2 separate regions of the Homo sapiens genome follow, and region 2 is linked to region 1. Evidence: fine-mapped expression QTL. Tissue or cell type: whole blood. Region 1 holds a variant in brackets; the other region holds the start of a gene. Each region is shown on its reference strand, or each on the opposite one. Region 1 holds the start of TENT5C (terminal nucleotidyltransferase 5C). Region 2 holds the start of TGFB1I1 (transforming growth factor beta 1 induced transcript 1).

The links. PIP is the estimated chance that this variant, and not a neighbour inherited with it, causes the effect.
Region 2: it holds the start of TGFB1I1, and the variant in region 1 is fine-mapped to the expression of TGFB1I1 in whole blood (TOPMed, PIP 0.94).

Annotation. Positions count from the first base shown.
Region 1 is chr1:117,605,120-117,615,317 of GRCh38, forward strand. It overlaps TENT5C (terminal nucleotidyltransferase 5C), which reads left to right and starts at 929. Exons shown (of 2, transcript NM_017709.4): 1 at 929-1,034. TENT5C-DT (TENT5C divergent transcript) reads right to left here and starts at 651. Exons shown (of 3, transcript NR_121626.1): 1 at 527-651. RefSeq lists enhancers at 1-243, 244-744 and a silencer at 655-994. The variant T/G (reference allele first, on the strand shown) is at 6,236.
Region 2 is chr16:31,468,074-31,478,271 of GRCh38, forward strand. TGFB1I1 (transforming growth factor beta 1 induced transcript 1) reads left to right here and starts at 4,079. Exons shown (of 11, transcript NM_001042454.3): 1 at 4,079-4,128; 2 at 5,368-5,483; 3 at 5,609-5,661; 4 at 5,762-5,904; 5 at 6,079-6,166; 6 at 6,277-6,382; 7 at 6,490-6,684; 8 at 7,939-8,112; 9 at 8,408-8,489; 10 at 8,789-8,937; 11 at 9,237-9,885. The coding sequence starts at 4,116. The coding sequence ends at 9,503. RefSeq lists enhancers at 4,418-4,958, 7,473-8,205, 8,206-8,937, 8,938-9,670 and a silencer at 8,964-9,053.

The DNA.
Region 1 (10,198 bases):
GTCTTGTCCTACAGATAGGAGACGCAGGTTGTTGGAGGGTTGGTTCAGTTACTTGCCTAAGGCCTTACAGAAAGTTTAAGTGGTGCATGGAGATCTCAACTCAGATTAGTCTGAATTCAGAACCTGGGCTGTAAACCACTCGCTATGTTATGAATGGATGGTGTCCAAGCCCTGCCTGCATGTTATATAACACACTGGACCAAGTGCTGTGGCATTCCGAATGGGGCCGAAGCGGCTGCGGCTGCCGACATTGGCGATGGACTCCCCGAGGCCCTTCGTCCCACTAACTGCACACAGGTGGTCCCCGGGGCCAGAGAGCCGCCGGCGCTCTCTCCCCGAAGACCACGCCTTCGCCTCCAGCCAGTTTGCTTGGGGAATCAGAAAGGTGCCCAGGGCCCAGAAACCATTAAGTTTTTTCCGACTTCAAAAACACACACCGGAGGTAGGCGTGGGCGTTACCCGCCTCACTCCTGGGGGCAGGGAGAACCAACGCGAAAATCCCCAGAGAGGCGGAAGAAAAACCTGCCTGCGAGAGAATAGGATGGAGATGGGAAAAGCCTGGGGAAGAGAGAGTTATGCGGCAGGAATAGCAGAAAAGCGTACTAAGCAAAAAGAAAGGTGTCCCACTAACTCCGAAGTTAAGTGGGTGTCGACGCAGCCCCCTCTATTGCGCTTGCGCAGTGCTGCCTCCCTGAGCACCCCGCCCCTTCCCGCCGCTGAGGATTTACTCGTCTCTTGGCAACCATTCACCCGAAGAGCCAATCAGAGGGCAGCCCTCGCCCCGCCCCTGCCGTCAGGGCCGGGCGGAAGGGTCCCGAGGGGACTGGCTCCGCCACGCCCCGCCCCTGGCTCCCCCGGGAGGGCGGCTCAGGGGCGGGGACGGGGGCGTGGTCCCGCCGTATAAGAACGGAGGGGGCGGCGGCGGGACGGCTCACTCGGTGCCGCTGCCTAGGGGCTGTAGAGGTCGCGCCGCTCCTGCTGGGGCCTGCCCACGCCAAGGACCTGCCTCTGTCGCCTCCTCTTCTATTGCCCAGGTGAGTCCGCGACCCCCCTCCTCTAAAGGTGCGGCGATGCGGCAGCAGCCCCAGGGAGCCGCGAGCTCACTTAGTGGGGGTCCGCCCCCACTAAGTGGTGCTCAGGTCTTTGCCCAGCCTGGTAGGGGGCAGGCGGACCCGAGGGGAGCTGCGGACAGGTGCCGAGACCCGGTGCTCCTTTCCCCTCCTGCTCCCTCGAGGACCCCCGCCCCTGACACACCCGTCCCAAAGGGCCAGAAGAGACGCTCCGAAAGGGAGCTACAACTTTCCAGAGACCTGGGGCTTGGCAAACTCCAGCGAGTTCCTGCTCCGCGCGTCCTGCAGGCTGCGCGCTGGCCAGGCGCGGGCAGGGCGTCTGAAGAGTGTGTGATCGGCGCCTCCGCTCCTACCTGGATCAGACGGCGCCCCCCGCCACCCATGCCTCCCTTCCTGGCTTGCAGTCCCTCGGGCTCGCCCCGGCGCTCCCGCGGGCGCGCACACCTTCGCCGGCCCGCCGAGTGTGAATTCGAATTCGGCGGTTTCACTAGGCGCAGCTGGAGACGCAGCGGTCCGGGGCTTGGATCTGGTTGGGGAGGGGAGGGGCGCTTCCTAGGCTCATTGCCAAGTCCTGAGTTTTAAGGAGAAGGGCGGAGATCCTTAAATTTAATGCGCTCACATCAGACTGTGGACACCATGAGCAGCAAAGGGATCCAAGCCAGTGACTTGTGCGCTGCGCGTCTCTCAGAAACTTCTTGGGAATGCGGTGTCTGTGAAACCTGCTTCCTCTCCTTTTGAAAATGAAACTTGCTTTACTGCGTAGGTGAAAAGCCACGGCAAGTGGGTCGACTCGGACGGATACCGGTGCGGCTGCCCCGGGAGGTGTCGCAGTTCGGGGACTCCCTTCGCACTGGTCGCGAGGCAGGAGGGAGCAGGGTGGGAGGCGAGTCAGAGGAGGGTGACTTACCTGAAGAATACAGGTTGGTAGCCTGCACACCTGAACTCAACGCTGGCGGGCGAGAAAACCAAGCAGCGCTACCTCCAAGTAAGGGCGCTCCCCTGGAGAAATGAATGCCTGGCGAGCTTCTGGAGAACCCACTATTAGGGCTGGACCCTGCGGGAGGGATAGTGTCAGCTCCCTTCCCCTTCGCCCTTTTTTGTCCATAGGTAGGCTTTTGTAGGGCTCTAACCAGTTCCCTGGCTTAATTAAGTAGGGGCCTGCTTCCTTTTTAACATTTTTGCTTTCTTACGGAGATATAAAGTGCATACAAATGAAGTGCTTAAAATGCACTTATAGTAAGAAAGCTTTTATAAATACTATGTGCATAATTATTTGTATTGTGACAACTTGGTCTTCAGGTTACTTTGTAGGTGGGTTAGGAGACTGAACCAGCCCAGGAAATAAAGTTAGGGTGATTAGATCCTCCCAAAGTACACTTCTGGCTGGCTCAGCTGCCCTCTGCGTGCAGGAAAGAGGGTGACCGTTGTTGGCGACAGCAACCTTTCAACGTGAGTAAATTGGCAAGGAAATGAGCCCAGGAAGTAAGTTGGGCAGCCGCAAGAGTGGTAGGAGAGCTTACCCAGAATTTTACTGTCTTAAATCCCCAAGGGTATTATTGAGGGTGTGAGACCAGCCACGTTAGGCCCTGCAGTGGAAAAGGGGGAGGGGGATGGGGAGTAAAGAATGCTGACTTTTCTCTGGGCTTTTAGGGAAACCTCTGAGCTGGGCTGCAGGGGTTCTGTCCTTTGACATTCTTGTTTGTGAAGATGGAAAATGATCTCTGGAGTCAAGCTTAGTTTATTTCAGATAATGAACTTTTTCTCTTAAGGTATACCCATAGCTTTAGAGTACATATATTCTCAATAAAGAGTTTTTAGGAAGATTTTGGTATATTGTATATAATTGTTCAGGTAGCTATGCGGGGGTAGGGGGCTCCCATAACAAAGTTTAAAAAAAAAAAAAAACTCTGCCAGGAGGCCTCTAAATTGTTACCAAAACAAAGATCCCTAATTTCATAAGCAGCTTCAGTGAGCACATAGAATTAACAGCCATATTTCTTACGCTGTTTTTTCCACAATACCTACCTTGTATCCAGGGATTAAATTCATGTAATTCTGAAGGAAAGGATTTGGCTCTTAGCCTGCTTGTCAGAGTGAGCATGACTTAGTTGTGCACCTGTGGCTATCTCTACCTGGTTTCTTCTCTTGTACCGTGAGCACAAGTAGCCACTGAAATCTCCCGAGTTCCAGAGGCCCGTCCCCCCTCAGCTGTATCTCCCCATAGTGCACACATTCAGCCCACATTCCCCCGTGTTCAAGGCCAGGGCAGATCATGCACATCTTGCGCTGCCGGTCAGAGAACAGAATTCCTCATATTTCTGAAAGTCCAAGGAACAGTGCAGCAGTAAAAATAACTTAAAAGTGGGCTGTAGTGCTCTTGTTTTCACAGTACCATTAACCAGACACATTTGATAGAAAATTTAAAAACTTCATTTAAAAAACTTTTTTTGTTGTTTTTACTGCTCAAGTACATAGGACCTTGTCTTCATCTTTTGTCTCTGATCAATGTTGTGTTCATGGAGTTACCTACTAAAGAAATGGAAACCCAAAGGCTCTCAGTGGATGAGTTGAACCTTTTTTTTTTTTTTTTGCATTACTGAGAGAAGTCGTGGAAGCCCAAAACTAGTTTCATGAGTTAAGCTAAACTTATGTTTTGGGGTTTCTTGGTTTCACACCTGTCTCTGGGTGTATCTGCTATTTTGTGTGCATGTGTGTGTGTTTAGGAGTTAAGGAGTAATGTGGAATGTGAGGTTACTTGGAATAAAACATTACTTGGGTTAGATAAGGTCTGTTGCTTTTTGTGTTGTCATTGAGGTAAACAAGGCACTGTAGGAAAATGCTTCCTGCCATCTTGGTGTTTTGACTATAGTACATTAAAATGGCATAAATTGTATTACAATGAAGCAGACACCTCTGTGTTTAAAGAAATGTTCATGTGTTTAAAGCTGCTTGGGTACATTAGTACTGCTGATTTCTTGTGATGTTTTCAGGCCATAAGATCTCTCAAAACGTTTTTACGCTTTCATTGCAGGCCGCATAAAGAGGCTTGCATTTGGAATTCAAATAGTTTAGAGGAAGCATCTTTATATAGTTCAACTAGGTAAGGAAGCCTTAAGAATTGTTCAGAATTAATAGATTTTGTACAGCTGGCCCCCACAGTCTGTTCTAGAACTGTTTGAAAACTTCTTGGAACAACAGAAAAAAAATATGAAAAAATAATTGCTGATGTTAAGCAACTCTCTCCCTGTAGGATGTTTTTTAGTGTCGGAGCTTGAGACTAAAGTCTTGGAGTCTTGGTCACAAAACTGCATGGAGTGTTGTTTATTTCTTGGAGAACCGTGATTGAGTCAGTAAGTAGTTAAGTGCTTCCTAGGCAGTAGCTAGTGCCAGGTGCTGAGGACGCCAAGGCAGTGGTGTTTGGAAATGCCTTTGGAAGAGCTCTGGATGCGAGAGGAGCTGGGCTGGCTTTATCATGCAGTCGAGGCACTCCGATTTCTCTCATTAGTCTCAGCCACTGGCATATGAGCGCCGGAAAGCGGAATCTGTGCTCACTGCTGACTCCCCAGTGCCTGCTTATAGAGCTGGCCTGGCACACAGAAGGTGTTCTGTCATTTGGATACATGTTCGGTTGGCGGCTTGCAAAGAGGGAGGCGTACTTGAAGTGGGAGTTCTCTTGGTGGACCGAGGCAGGCAGGCCAATGGCTGAGTCCTCTTTTAAGTAGAGGCCACAGGGGTATAGGTTTGGAGCTGAGGGGCAGTGACTAGCTAATTGACCAACAGCTGAAACTCCTCAAGCTGAGCTCCAGACCCACTCCCTTAAGCACTTGCCATCCTTCCCACCCTCCCTGACACCAGCCTCACATGGCTCACTCAGCCTTTTCTCTCTCTCTGTTCACTCAGTTGCTAGTTCTGCTGATTCTTTCTCTTTTTTATTGTTTCCCACTGTCATCACTGACCTGGTTTAGGGGCCCGTAGACAGGAACTTGATGAGGGCAGTAAGTGAGTCCGCCTCCCCTGCCTCTGGCTAGTTCTACAGTCTGTGCATTTGGAACTCCATCCAAGCGCACAGGGACTGCCTGCACCTCTGGAAGCTGAACCTCCTCTTCAAGACCGTGCCTTTCTGACTCTTTACTCTTGACCCACCCTCCACCCCCCATGGCAGAGTCTCCCTAACTGCCCTTCTTTGCCTCACAGAACAGATACTCATATCTGCACAAAGGAATGATACTCCTTTCTCACCAAACTTTGAATCCAGCTTCAGGCCCTTCCCACAGGCTTCTGACTGACATTATTCCATCTGGGGACCCGCTCTTTTCACACCTCGATTCATTAATACTTTGTTGTTGTTTGTTCTTTTGAGACGGAGTCTTACTCTGTCGCCAGGCTGGAGTGCAGTAGCACGATCTCTGCTCACTGCAACCTCCACCTCGTGGGTTCAAGCGATCCTCCTACCTCAGCCTCCTGAATAGCTGGGACTACAGGTGCACACCACCACACCCAGCTAATTTTTTGTATTTTTAGTAGAGATGGGGTTTCACCATGTTGGCCATGATGGTCTTGGTCTCTTGACCTCGTGATCTGCCTGCCTCAGCCTCTCAAAATGCTGGGATTACAGGTGTGAGCCACCATGCCCGGCCAATACTTTCTTACAGTTCTTCCTTCTACCTTCTTTTCTAGTTCTTAAATTTTTATCTTTGATTGAATAAGCACAAAGTCCCATACTGTTACCATACTTAGCCTCCTATAAAAACATTTTGAGAAGAAAATTATCCATGAAACTGCAACTGCCCACACCCTCTTCCGTTGCCGTAAGCATCTCTCAACTTGTTTAGCCCTTATGAAGATAGAAGAGGTAACCCTCCACCTTTCCTGGCTGCTTGCCCCTGATCCCCAAACACACTCTGTCCATCGTTGCCCTCTGCTCGTCGTAGTTAGAGATGGGCATTAGGATCTCCACAGCTAGCCAGTGCTATATGGACTTGGGCAGTTTCAATCGTCATTCCTGTGGAATAACTGCAGCACAGCAGTAGCAGAAAGAGGACTGATCCAGAAGCAGAGATGACGCGTACACTCATCAAGTGCCTGATATGTGTCTAGAGGCTTGCTCACAGCTGCTCAGCTAGAGCTAGCACCGCTGCTATCTCCTGTGCCCAGGCTGTTTGTCA[T/G]CTTTTTACCTCCTCTGCTTCTGAGGCTGACTTTAGCTGTGGGGAGACCTGGGCTCTGGTCCTGGCAGAGCCTTTACCTCTTCAGCCTTCAGCTTCTTCATTATAATAAGGACAATAAATTAGATCAGTGCTTTCCAGTAAAAATATGAGAGACACGATTAACTTCCTAGTAGTCCCATTAAAGAGTAGAAGTAGGTGAAATTTGGCCAGGGGCAGTGACTCACAGCTGTAACCTCAGGACTTTGGGAGGCTGAGGCAGGAGGATCCCTTGAGTCCAGGAGTTCCAGACCAGCCTGTATGACACAGCAAGACCCCATCTATATAAAAACAATTTTTTAAAAAATTAGCTGGGTGTGGTGGCACGTGCCTGTGGTACCAGCTACTCAGGAGGCTGAGGCAGGAGAATTGCTTGAGCCCAGGAAGTCAAGGCTGCAGTGAGCTGCCATCGAACCACGGCACTGCAGCCTTGGCAATAGGGTGAGACCCTGTATCAAAAAAAAGTGAAATTCATTTTAATAAGTGTATTTAATCTACCATATCAAATTTCATCATTTCAGTATGTAATCAATATAAAAAATCTAAATGAGATAGTTTACATTCCTTTTATCATACTGAGACCTTGATATCCAGTATGTGTTTTAGCATTTACAGCGGTACCTACTGTATTGGGCAGCACAAGTCTAGACCATCAGCAAAAATGTTTCACTCTCAAGTTCTGATTCTGCATGTGTGGGAGGCAAGATTTAACAACCCAAAGTTATGGAAGGAGAGTAGGAAGCAGGATATCAGCTCCACAGGGCCAGGGATCTTTGTCTCTTTCTTCCCAGTGCATCACAAGCTCCTGGAGCAGTGCTTGAAACATAGTAGGCATGCACATTTTTGAAAGAGTGAAAGGAAAGTCAGTTATGGCCAACTTACTGACAGTCATTCACACTGTGCGTCAGACTTGACACTAAAACACATGGTGTTGGATTCCTAGCCCGGTGCTCATTCTTTTTTTTTTTTTTTATAGTTTCTTAGAGAATAATCATAAGGCAATAGAATTTCAAGGAACTGCTGATAAAATCTTCTGAGACTGGCAGGGGACCAGGACTCAGTTTATCAACAATTAAGTTTTATCAACAATTAAAATTTGAGTGAAATTGCAAGAGGAAGTAACATTCAAGTCAAGTCAAAGTGTTTGAGCTGTCTGGTGACAGCACATTAATTACTTGATGAACGCTAAACATGAGCTGCTGCTATGCGCAGTACCTGGAGGCCCGGAACCTGCAACTTGAATGCCAACTCCTAAGGGAAGGATCCATGCAAAACAAAAACCTGGATGGAACTATGCACGTAATTAGCATCTGCTCTGAAATGGAGGTCAGCTCACACTTAGACACTTGTGAATGGGGTGTGTTTATGGTCTAACGTATGATAAGGGTGGCATTTGAGGAACTAAGAGTTGCTTGTCCCTTTCCTGATAAGGCCTGGGCAGGGAAGCTGCTAGTGATTAGACAGGACTTTTAGCTGACTGAGGTCTTCCTTTTGGACAACTGTTTAAAGCTGTAGGCTGGAGAGTTAGATGGTAAAGTAGCCTGTGGAAGCAGCCTTTGATGAAACCCGGAGGCTGTCAGCTCTTAAACCCTGTGGATTACGTGTAAGCTGAGTCATTCTTACAGTAAGCAGTCTCCTCCTTAGGAATCATCTCATTTTTCTCAGTCTGGGCAATCTCTAAAACAGAAAGGCAGGCTCTCTTTGGGGAGCTCTTTAAATGAATTCAGACCAGTAACACCTCTGATCTAGAAAGAAGCAGTTGATGGTGGGAAGGTGGTTACCAAGTAGCAACAAGGATTATTTCCATTTCAAGTTGTGTGTGTAGCACTTAATGCTGACACCTTGGAAAAAAATCAAGGCTTTTATGCCCTGCTTCCATCTGAAGATGTCTGTGTCCTGACCTTGTTAATATTTCCATTTGCAACCACGTCAGAGTATACCTTTCAACACTTGAACTTGTGTGGCATCCCTGCTGTAATATCTAGGCCAGTGTTTTGATTCTGTTTGCTGTTTTGCGGCCACAGCATTAGTTCTTCCAGCGTTATCTCTCCACCCACACTTGCCCAAGCATCCTATTTTCAAAGGTGGGAAAGAGCTTTCTGTTTGGAGTTGTCGTTGGTGGGTGTCTATGGATGGAGCCCAGTGATAACCATTCAGACTGTGTGTTGGCTTCTCACTTCTTAGTGGGAAGTGAGAATTCATGGAGGCCCCTTAAACAGCGGAGATCACAGCCTGGTTCTGTGGCCTGCCTGGGTTTCAGTCCAGGGCTGCTTTCCACAGCTCATGTGGGAATCTAACCACATTTTTTGACTCTAGTAAACATCATTGGTAAATGGCTGGAGGATGATAATAACCTTAAGAAAATAGAATGAGACGCTGGCTGAATGCAATGGAGCTGAGAGTGAGAAAAGACCAACTGTGGGGTTTGTTGCGTCACTGACTTAGAAATGTTTTCTCTGGGCACAGCTTTGTGGCCTGGGGCAGTTACTTCTTTGAACTCAGGTAGAATGTGTTGCGGGCATTTAAGTGGGCAACTGTAAAAATAACATCTTGGAAAAATAGTGAGCATAGGATATATTTTATTGGCCTTTTAAAAAGTAAAGCATTATTTTATCTGTTTTTATTGCTTCAGGCCATTCATAATCTAAGCTGCTATTCCATGTACATGAAACACTCGAGTGTCTGTTATCTGTAACTTTCATGTGTTTGGGGCTGTGGAGGAGTCTCCAGAATGTGGCCCCCTCCCTATGTGGGGGGTCTGGCCCTAGGGAGGAGCTGGCAGACAAAAGCCTTCCTTAGACTGCCTCCAAACCCTTCCTAGATAACTTCTGGCCTTCATCCCCCAAGGAATTCAAGGAGTAAGAGAGGAGGATTTTTTTCAGAAGGCCATATCCATGTTGACCCTGGTTTTTCTCGTTTCTGCCCGGTTATCTGCTGCTGCACATGCCAAGCAAAATGACCAAGGTCCATGGTCATTCGAAGCGCCTGGCTCTTTTCTTATGGGTGAAAGAATCTCAAGGGTCAAACTACATGCAGGTGGGGGAAGTGACGGTGTCCAGTCTCAGGTTCAGCATTCATGAGGTCCTGTGTACGTTCCAGACTTTCTGCTTTCAGTTTTGTTCCAGCTCTCCTTCCTGGGCTGGCCCTTTAAGTCCTGGTCACTGCCTGCAAATTTATCAGCCATTTCTCTGTAGCTCCAGTTGGGTTATTGGCTTCTTTGATCTGAGAAGGTTGCCGTCTCGACTGTAGCTAGTGTCCTGTTCTGTTGCTTCATCAGCCTATCAACACTCTGATCTCCCAGCCATCAGAGGAGTCTCAGTAATTGTTCCTTTATTCCATGAGCAAAGCAGCATGCCTTAGTTTTCTGGATCAGGATCAGCCCATTCCTGATAATCTCCCTCCTGTGCCATTAATTTTTCCTCTTATTACTAGTTCAGCAAGGCGACTGTGCAGCACCTTCCACTCTTGGGTTCTCTCTCTCTTCTGGACTTGGTTTCTCTAAAATCACCACTGTTCTGCAACGTAGCAAGCATCTTGGAGCTCCCTGGGAAGTTAGGATCCTAGGCCTTCATCTCCCAGCCATTGTTCCTTTAAAACAAACAGTAGCATAACGATTAGCATTTCTACACTTAATCACATTCAGTTCTGGTGGCTCCAGCCTGCAGTTTCTATGCTGACAGTTGTTAGATACTTCAGTTCTAAATGCTTCTCCCTTGCTTTCAGAATTTGCCATCTGGCCTTACCTCACTCAGGTGGCCTTAGCGGTCTAGCCAAACTTCTTTCCTACCATCTTATTTTTTAAAAATCTTTATACCTTCCTTCCTTTTCTTTCTACTTACTGTCATCTCCTTCCTCTGACCATCTAAGCACAACCAGCTCTTCTTCAAGCTCCCTGCCCCACCAAAGCTATCCACCTTTTAGGAAGAC
Region 2 (10,198 bases), not on the chromosome of region 1:
ATTCCATGGTGTATATGTACCACATTTTCCTTTTTTTTTTTTAAGAGACAGGGTCTTGCTATGTTGCCCAGGCTGGTCTCAAAATCCTAAGTTCAAGCAGTTCTCCTGCCTCAGACTCCTAAAATGCTGGGATTTATAGGCACGAGCCACTGTGCCAGCCAACATTTTCTTTATTCAGTCACCCATTGATGGATACTTAGGTTGGGTCCATGACTTTGCTATTGTGAATAGTACTGCAATAAACACAATGAGTCCAGCTGTCTTTTACATGATTTCTTTTCCTGTGGGTAGATGCTCGTTAGTGGGATTTCTGAGTCAAATGATAGTTCTAGTTGTAGGTCTTTGAGAAATCTCTATGCTGTTTTCCAGAGAGGTTGAGCTAATTTACATTCCCACCAACAGTGTATAAGTATTCCTCTTTCTCCACATTCATGCCAACATCTGTTGCTCTTTTACTGTTTAATAATTGGCTTGCAGATTTTTGACTCCTCAGTGGCAGCCTGATTTTGGGGAGAGCTGCACTGGGCCTGCCAAGGTTTGCTTCTGGGCAGCTGAGGTTGGCACTTGCTGTCTCTGAGCCTCTGTGAGTGTTGGTCCAGGTCTCTGGTTTTCAGGCTATGCATTAGAACCAAGCAGTGAGCTTTGAAAAACTATTGATGCCTGGGGTCTTTTTGCTCACATTGGACTGGGCATCGGTATTTTATTTTATTTTATTTTATTTTTTGGAATCTTGTTCTGTCACCCAGGCTGGAGTGTGGTGGTACAATATTGACTCATTGCAGCCTCCGCCTCTCTGGTTCAAGCAATTCTCATGCCTCAGCCTCCCAAGTAGCTGGGATTACAGGTGCCACCATGCCCGGCTAACTTTTTTTGTATTTTTAGTAGAAATGGGGTTTCACCATGTTGGCCAGCCTGGTCTCGAACTCCTGACCTCAGGTGATCTGTCTGCCTTGGCCTCCCAAAGTGCTGGGATTACAGGCGTGAGCCACCGCGCCCAGTCAGGCCCTATCTTCAAATATAGTCACACTGAGGGTTGAACTGTGATGTATAAATGTGGGGGAGACACAAACATTCAGTCCATAACACTCCCTTTCCCCCAACCCTAGGCAATCACTAATCTACATCGTATCTCTACAGATGACCTATTCTGGACATGTCATATAAATGGAATCATACAATGTGTGATCTTTCATATCTGGCCTCTTTCATATAGCTTAATGTTATCAAGGTTCATCCACACTGTAGCATCTCATTTCTTTTTATTAGGAATAATACAGTTTCACTTTATGGATTGCTGTGGTTTGAACATGTACCCCAGAGTTCATGTGTTGGAAACTTAACCCCCAATTCAACTGTTGAGAGGTGGGAACTTTAAGAAGTGATTAGGTTATGTGGGCTCTTCCCTCATGAATGGATTAATGGCATTATTGCATGAGTAGGTTAGTTATCAAGGGAGTGGACAGCTGATAGATAAATGGATGGGTTCTGCCCCCACCCCACCCCCTCTCTTGCACTGTCTTGCCCTTCTGCTTTCTGCTGTGGGATGAGGCAGAAAGAAGGCCCTCACCAGATGCAGGGCCCTTGACCTTCGACTTCCCAACCTCTAGAACTGAAAGAAAGATATTTCTATTCTTTATAAATTATCCAGCCTTAGGCATTCTACGATGCAGCACAAAACAGACTAAGACATGGATATGCCACTTTCATTTCTTCAATCATCAGTTGACGGACATTTGGGTTGTTTCCACTCGGGCTATTATGAATAATGCTGCTATGAATACTCATGTACAAGTTTTTTTGTGGAATATGCTTTTATTTCTCTTGGTTACATATCTAGAAGGGAAATTGCTGGATCATATAACTCTATGTTTAAACATGTGAGGAACTGCCAGACCATTTTCCAAAGTTAGTGAACGATTTTACATTCCAACCAGCCATGTGTGAGGGTTCCAATCTCTCCATATCCTCACAAAAACTTGCTAATTACCTCTTTCTTTTCAGCTTTTTTTTTTTTTTTTTTTGAGTCGGAATCTCACTCTGTCACCAGGCTGGAGTGCAGTGGCACAATCTCTGCTCACTGCAACCTCTGCCTCCCGAGTTCAAGTGATTCTCCTGCCTCAGCCTCCCGAGTAGCTGGGATTACAGGTGCCTGCCACCACACCCAGCTAATTTTTGTATTTTTAGTAGAGACGGGGTTTTGCCAAGTTAACCAGGCTGGTCTCCAACTCCAGACCTCAGGTGATCCGCCCGCCTCGGCCTCCCAGAGTGTTGGGATTACAGGCGTGAACCACTGAGCCTGGCCTTTAAAATATTATCATTATTATTTGAGATGGAGTCTCGCTCTGTTGCTCAGGCTGGAGTGCAGTGGCACGATCTCAGCTCACTGCAGCCTCCACCTGCCAGGTTCAAGGGATTCTTCCGCCTCAGCCTCCCAAGTAGCTGGGACTACAGGTGCCCACCACCATGTCTGGCTAATTTTTTTGTGTGTTTTTAGTAGAGACTGTTTTCACCATGTTAGCCAGGCTGGTCTCGAACTCCTGACCTCAGGGGATCCACCCACCTCGGCCTTCCAAAGTGTTAGGATTACAGGTGTGAGCCACTGCTCCTTGCCTAATTACCTGTCTTTTTTGTTATTGCCATCCTAATAGGTATGATGTGGCATCTCATTGTAGTTTTGATTTGCATTTCTCTGGGGACTAATGATGTTGAGGATCTTTTCATGTAATCATTGGCTATTTATATAACTTCTTTGAACTGTCTATTCAGGTCGTTTGCCCATTTTTTCTTCTTTTTCTTTTTTATTCTTGACACAGGGTCTCCTCTGTTGCTCAGGAGTTCAGTGGCACAATCTCAGCTCACTGCAGCCTCTGCCTCCAGGTTTCAAGCAATTCTCCTGTCTCAGCCTCCCAAGTAGCTGGAATTACAGGCTCCCACCACCACGCACAGCTAATTTTGTGTTTTTAGTAGAGATGGGGTTTTGTCATGTTGGCCAGGCTGGTCTCGAACTCCTGACCTCAAGTGACCTGCCCGCCTTGACCTCCCAAAGTGCTAGGATTATAGGTGTGAGCCACCATGCCTGTCTCGCATTTTTAAAAAGCTCCCCAGGTTGTTCCGATTTGCTGCTGGGTTGATACTCACATTCCAGTGCTCAGATCTGTCCAGAAGAGTGGCTGCAGCACAGTTGTCTGTCCATAACTACCTCTATGGCCTCTCGTTTCCACCTCGTTTCTCAGGGTCTCAGTCCAGGGAAGGCCTTGCCACTTTGTGGCTGGAGACTGTGTCTTGCTTTCTGCTCTGAGTTCATCAGTAACTTGGGAAAGGGCTGTTTCAGAGCAGGCCTGGGCCACCTCAGTGCTGAGGAAGGGCTTTGTCTTGCAGGCTGGCTGGGGGTTGGTTGCCTGGGAGTGTTTTCCCCGAATTTGCAAGGGGCTTGCGCCCGGGTTCGAGTTTACGTGTGTCCATGACCAAGTCTTGGAGGGAAGGTCCTAGTGTAGAGTCTGTGGGTGGGTTCACTGTGTCTGTCCCCGTCCCTCAGATTTCTTTGTGTCTGGTATGTATGCCTCTTGGGGCCTCTATTTATCTGTCAGGGTCTCCGATGGGAGGGTCTCCGAACCTGAGGTCTAATTGAGCCTTAGAATATCACTCCTGCTACCAATCCAAAAATTCCGTCTGGGACAAGTCTCCCAGGAATGGCATGGGTGGGAGGGAGGCTCTTGTCTAGGACTCAGGCGCTAGCTTTGAGCGGTGTCTGTTTGGGGGCCTCAGTCCGTGTCTGTAAGTCTCCCTAGGGAGCGGCTCTGGGGCTTGGTCTGGAGAAGCCACTTCTCTCTGGCTCTGGCCTCCTGGGGCTCCCTGCAGCTGAGGCCAAGGCTGGGGTGTGGCCGCCTCCGCGGCAGGCCGGCGGGCTGGGCTCGGGTGGGCCGGGGCGCTCCCTCCTTTCCACGCCCCCACCTCGGGTTCCCCCGTTCATCGCCCCCCCATCCCCATCTCAGCGGGTCCCGGCTTCCTTACATGGTCACGGCCGGGCTTCCAGCTCCCGGACGTCCCCCGCCCCCCGCCCCCACCGGACACGGCCCCCGCCCTGTTCGCCCCGCGCCACCGGCCCGCGCCCCGCCATGGAGGACCTGGGTGAGTGGGGCCGGATCCCCGGGTCCGTGGCCCCTCACCGCTGCCCAGAGCTGCCTCCCCGCCGTCGCTCTCCCGCATCTCCCCATCCCTGTCTTCTTACTTCTGCTTTTCGCCTCTGCCCGCGCCTCCTTTCCAACTCCACGTCCCCCTTCCTGCCTCTCCCTTCCTGCCTTTCCTGGGCCGGCCGCTCCCTCCCTTCTTCCCTCGCTGTGCTCCTCCATCCCAGGCTGCGGCAGATGGAACGGGAGGTGCGGCGCCCGCGGGCGCCCGGGCGCGGGGCTCTGGGGAGGGAGGGGTTAAAGGGGCCTCGGCCCGGGGACCGGGAAAGTAGAGGGCACGGGAAAGTCTGGCATCAAGTTTTGGAGAAAAAAAGCGGGCCTGCCTGCACCAGAGTTTTGGGAGAGGAGGAGTTAAGGGCTCCTGAGCACAGTGAGGGTCAGGTCCTTGAGGCAAGGAAGAGAATAGTAACTCAGGAGTGCCTAGGCGCCCGCGAAGGCTTCAGGGTTTCACGCGGGTGCTCAGAGACGAAGACTGAGGGCAGGACTTCTGGGTTCTGGAAGTGAAAGGGCTCAAAAGACCCGGATCTGGGGATGCAGGGATGGAGAGAGGTGTCTTGTCCGGAAGGGGGACCCAGGTATCTCGTCCTCCCTGCGAAGCCTGGGGCTGGAAGGCTGTGCGCTCCACGGGAGAGAGGGGCTTCCGGCCCCTGGCGGTAGAGGGCGCTGCTCGGTAGGGGTAACTGACGCTGTACCGCAGATAAACAGCCAATCAGAAGGCAGGTCCCAGCGAAGCGCCAGTGAGGAGCCCAGGGCGGGACTCAGGGGCCTGGGAGTGGCCAGGCTGGGCGGGGCCTGTGTAGGTAGAGGGAGGAGTTAACCAGCATGGAAGAGAGAGCGTCCAATCAGAAAGCTGAGGGCCAGGCACTGGGCCAATGGAGCAATTTGGAGGGGAGCCAAATTTGGCTTGGGTGAAGAGCCCATTTTGACTGCATCAGAGAAGATGGGGAGAATAAAATAATCAGGAGGCTGGGTTTGTGCTTGGCTCCAAGCGTGAGCAACTGGGATATTCTGGTCATAAATATTCCTTGCTACCCTTCGAGCAGTGCTCTGCCTGGCTCTGGCCCTGTGACCTCTTCTCTTAATACTGGCTTCTGTCCTTCTCCAGTACTGCCCACTGGGAACCTTATCTTCTGATCTAACCGTGACCCTTGTCTCTCTCCCTGATGGCCTCTTCCTGCAGATGCCCTGCTCTCTGACCTGGAGACTACCACCTCGCACATGCCAAGGTCAGGGGCTCCCAAAGAGCGCCCTGCGGAGCCTCTCACCCCTCCCCCATCCTATGGCCACCAGCCACAGGTGAGATCGGATGTTGGGGACTGGGGCAGCCACTAGGGCCAGGCTCGGCCTGGTCTATGGGGATCTCAGCCTCAGTGGGGCAGAGTGCAGGCCTGTCATCCCACCTGTGCGTCTCCGCTCTGTAGACAGGGTCTGGGGAGTCTTCAGGAGCCTCGGGGGACAAGGACCACCTGTACAGGTGAGGGGCCTGGAAACCAGGGCATGGGGGCCAACTGAGTCTCAGGTGAGGAGGCTTGGATTCCCCACCCCTGAACCCAGGCTCCCACTCTGCTTCCCAGCACGGTATGCAAGCCTCGGTCCCCAAAGCCTGCAGCCCCGGCGGCCCCTCCATTCTCCTCTTCCAGCGGTGTCTTGGGTACCGGGCTCTGTGAGCTAGATCGGTTGCTTCAGGAACTTAATGCCACTCAGTTCAACATCACAGGTACCAGGGTGACTGAGAGAGGCCTTGATGCGATAGGGGCAGGGGAGGGAAGGGTGGGGCAGAGACTAAGAGGAATACACTTCCCAGAGTAGCAGTTAAAGGGACCTAAAGCCTCAAGTGTGAGGGTGCGTTGAGCATGGCCCTATATGTAGCGTCCTCCTCTCCTCTCTCCAGATGAAATCATGTCTCAGTTCCCATCTAGCAAGGTGGCTTCAGGAGAGCAGAAGGAGGACCAGTCTGAAGATAAGAAAAGACCCAGCCTGTGAGTTTGGCGTCGTTGTCAGGGCTGAGAGATGAGTCCTGGATATCTGAGTCACTAGAGGGAGCGTTGCTCTGGGAGGCTCTGAGATGACACAAGCATGTTCTTCACAGCCCTTCCAGCCCGTCTCCTGGCCTCCCAAAGGCTTCTGCCACCTCAGCCACTCTGGAGCTGGATAGACTGATGGCCTCACTCTCTGACTTCCGCGTTCAAAACCATGTGAGTTGGGCAGTGGGCCAGTGTCCATTTGTGGCTCCCCAACCCCTTCTAGACAATTCCACATCTGCTGCTTTGCTGACTCAATTCTCATGTCCTCCCCGCTGCAGCTTCCAGCCTCTGGGCCAACTCAGCCACCGGTGGTGAGCTCCACAAATGAGGGCTCCCCATCCCCACCAGAGCCGACTGGCAAGGGCAGCCTAGACACCATGCTGGGGCTGCTGCAGTCCGACCTCAGCCGCCGGGGTGTTCCCACCCAGGCCAAAGGCCTCTGTGGCTCCTGCAATAAACCTATTGCTGGGCAAGTAAGTGGAGCCTTGTGAGAAGGGAGGCAGAGACCTGTCACAGACCCATCTTTAGTGAGAGCTGGGCTTTATGCTGTTCCCTTTTAGTAAGTTAATCTGGGAAGTGGGTATCATTATTACTTATGTTTTATGGATGAGGAAACTGAAGCTCTGAACCACACAGCAGGTTAGTGGTAGGGTGAAAATTCCAACCATGTTACCATTTATTGTGGTCCTACTGTGTGCCAGGCACTGTGCCAGCTCCTTTACAAACCCTCATCTCATCTGATCTTCACAAAACACTCTGTGGCTCCACCCAATATCTCTCAGGCATCTACAAAGGCTCTCTCTTCCTCCGTCAGAGTCTGGACTGGGTTCACTGGTCCTTGTTTTATTGACTGAGCAGATGTGATTGACAACAGCTGTGCCTAGGGGTTAACCTAGTGCCCCCTGCTAGATCAAGTACCTGACTCCCAGCCCAGAATTGCCCATCTCAGCAAAGGAGGGTGGCATTGTGACTTTTGTGGATCATAGGCACTTTCATCTTCATGAGTCCCTTCGTCCATTAAAATAAATAGATTTTTATGTCTGTGTTGGTGTAAAGATGGGTATGTTATTATTGTGTATTACAGCATTTTCTTCTAGTTCATTTTTTTATTCTGAATTTTTAAAAACGGATTTTTCACTTCCTCCCTCTTATTTATTTTGAGGCAAATTCTCACTCTTGTGACCCAAGCTGGAGTGCAGTGGTGCGATTGTGGCTCACTGCAGCCTCGACCTTCTGGGCTCAAGTGATCCTCCCAGCTCAGCCTCCCGAGTAGCTGGGACTAAAGGCGCCCGCCACCTCGCCCAGCTAATTTTATTTATTTATTGTAGAGATGGGGCTTCGCCATGTTGCCCAGGCTGGTCTCAAACTCCTGGACTCAAGTAATCCTCCCACCTCAGCCTCCCAAATGCTAGGATTAGAGGCACGAGCCACCCAGCCTGATCGTATTTTGATTTTAAAAAAATTAAAACGTTTTTATGGGCCCCTAAATGTATTGTGGGCTCCAGGCGCTGTGCCTGCTGTGCCTCATGTATAGGTCAATCCTGGAGCGCAGCTGGAAGACGGAACACGGGAGCTAGATCTCCATCGCTTACAGGCTGCGTGATCTCGAACACTGGATTCTTTATTCTGATCGCTCAGAGAGGACTCGAAAAACGCCGCGTAAATCTTGCCTCACTGGGCATGTGGTTGTCAGAGCCGCTCTGACCCGCCTCACCTCCCACTCGCAGGTGGTGACGGCTCTGGGCCGCGCCTGGCACCCCGAGCACTTCGTTTGCGGAGGCTGTTCCACCGCCCTGGGAGGCAGCAGCTTCTTCGAGAAGGATGGAGCCCCCTTCTGCCCCGAGTGCTACTTTGAGCGCTTCTCGCCAAGATGTGGCTTCTGCAACCAGCCCATCCGACACGTGAGCCCCGCCCGGCCGCACCGAGCCCGCCCTATCTCACCAGGAGAGCTGTGGGACGGGCCTCCACCGCATGGGTCCCGCCCCACCCGCGATACCCCACTCCACCCCTACCCCTTCCCCTTGGCAATGTCCACGGCCCCTTGGACTCCACTCTTCCTTTCTGACCCCCACGTTCCTAGTTAGATCTTCTCCCCCTCCCCCCACGCATGCCTTAGTCCAGTCACCCGGGTTCCGCGCGGGAGAGGAAGGCGCGAAGGCACGGAGGCCGCGCTGAGTGCCCTCTCCCTCCCTGCAGAAGATGGTGACCGCCTTGGGCACTCACTGGCACCCAGAGCATTTCTGCTGCGTCAGTTGCGGGGAGCCCTTCGGAGATGAGGGTGAGAGTGAACTCGACTCCCATCTTAAAAGCTGCGGGTCCCCTCGACGTCTCGCCCCAGCCCCTCCGACCTCCGGAGTCCTCAGGGCCATGGTTTTCCTTCTGCTCTCTTCTGGCCCTGCCCTCTCCTACACAGACTCCGGACCCGAGCCCTCCCCGCTCTGTCCCGCCATAGACCCGGCTCCTCCTTCCCCAAGGCTCCCTCGGACTGCCCCTCCTTCGGCCCCAGATCTCAGGTCTTGTGGGTCCCCCGTCCCGCCCGCACCCTTTGCTTTCAGCCCACTCGGTTCCCTCTCCTAGGTTTCCACGAGCGCGAGGGCCGCCCCTACTGCCGCCGGGACTTCCTGCAGCTGTTCGCCCCGCGCTGCCAGGGCTGCCAGGGCCCCATCCTGGATAACTACATCTCGGCGCTCAGCGCGCTCTGGCACCCGGACTGTTTCGTCTGCAGGGTGCGAGCTGCGGGGCGGGGCGTTGGAGGGGCGGGTCAAGGGTACAGGGCTGTGGGGCGGGGCCTTGGAGGGGCGGGTCAAGGGTGCAGGGCAGGGGGCGGGCCCTCGGGGGGGCGGGTCACGGGAGGTGCTGCTAGGAACCTCGGGTGGGGCGAGTTTTCCGGGCAGGGTCCCACCGGACGGGATTCTTCGCGTCTAGGGCGGGCTGCGGGGTCCCAGGGCGTTATCCGCTAGTAACGCGCGTTGTCTGGCAGTGGCCGCTGACCTGTCTGTCCTCTTTCGCGGCTTCCCTTCCCCAGGAATGCTTCGCGCCCTTCTCGGGAGGCAGCTTTTTCGAGCACGAGGGCCGCCCGTTGTGCGAGAACCACTTCCACGCACGACGCGGCTCGCTGTGCGCCACGTGTGGCCTCCCTGTGACCGGCCGCTGCGTGTCGGCCCTGGGTCGCCGCTTCCACCCGGACCACTTCACATGCACCTTCTGCCTGCGCCCGCTCACCAAGGGGTCCTTCCAGGAGCGCGCCGGCAAGCCCTACTGCCAGCCCTGCTTCCTGAAGCTCTTCGGCTGACAGCCCGCTCGGCTCGCCCTCTCCCCCGGAGGCCGCGCCCTCCCGGAAAAGCCGGGTCCTCCAGACCCCGAGGCCTTGCTCTCAGAGCGGGAGGCCCCACCCACTGGAGAGCCCCGCCCCTAAGGTACTATGAGTCCTCAGGGGTCAAGTTCAGAAACGGCCCAGCCAGACCTAAACCCACACGCCCACAAAGTGGATTGCACACAGACAAGAACTCCCGTGCGGGCCTCCACTCTATTCCCACCCTTGAGGGAGCCCCCTTACTGGGGGAGGGTCCTTGCAATTCCAGCGAATCGGAGGCCAGGCCAGGACGTCCTTGCTCCCTGCACCCTCACTGTTCTGTGCACTTTTTCTACCTACATAAACACACGCATTCCACCTCTCCCTGGTGCTGTCTCTGAATGCGCGCAGGAGCTTGGCCCTGACTCCCCACCCCCGCGCTGGCTCTGTCCCCGGCCGTCTCTAGGTCACTGCCCTGTGGCCGCAGCGGGACCTGCAGCCTCAGCCCTTGCAGGTAGCCACTCCTGCACTTCCTACTTCAAGTATCAGATGAGCCTGAGGCTGGAAAGTGTGGCGACTCGCGCAGGACTGTACAGATAGTGGCAGAGCCAGGACAAGAGCTCCAACTGGGGCCCCACCGAATATTCCCGCCCTCATTACTCTTTCTTCAGTTCTATATTTTGTTTTGTTTTGTT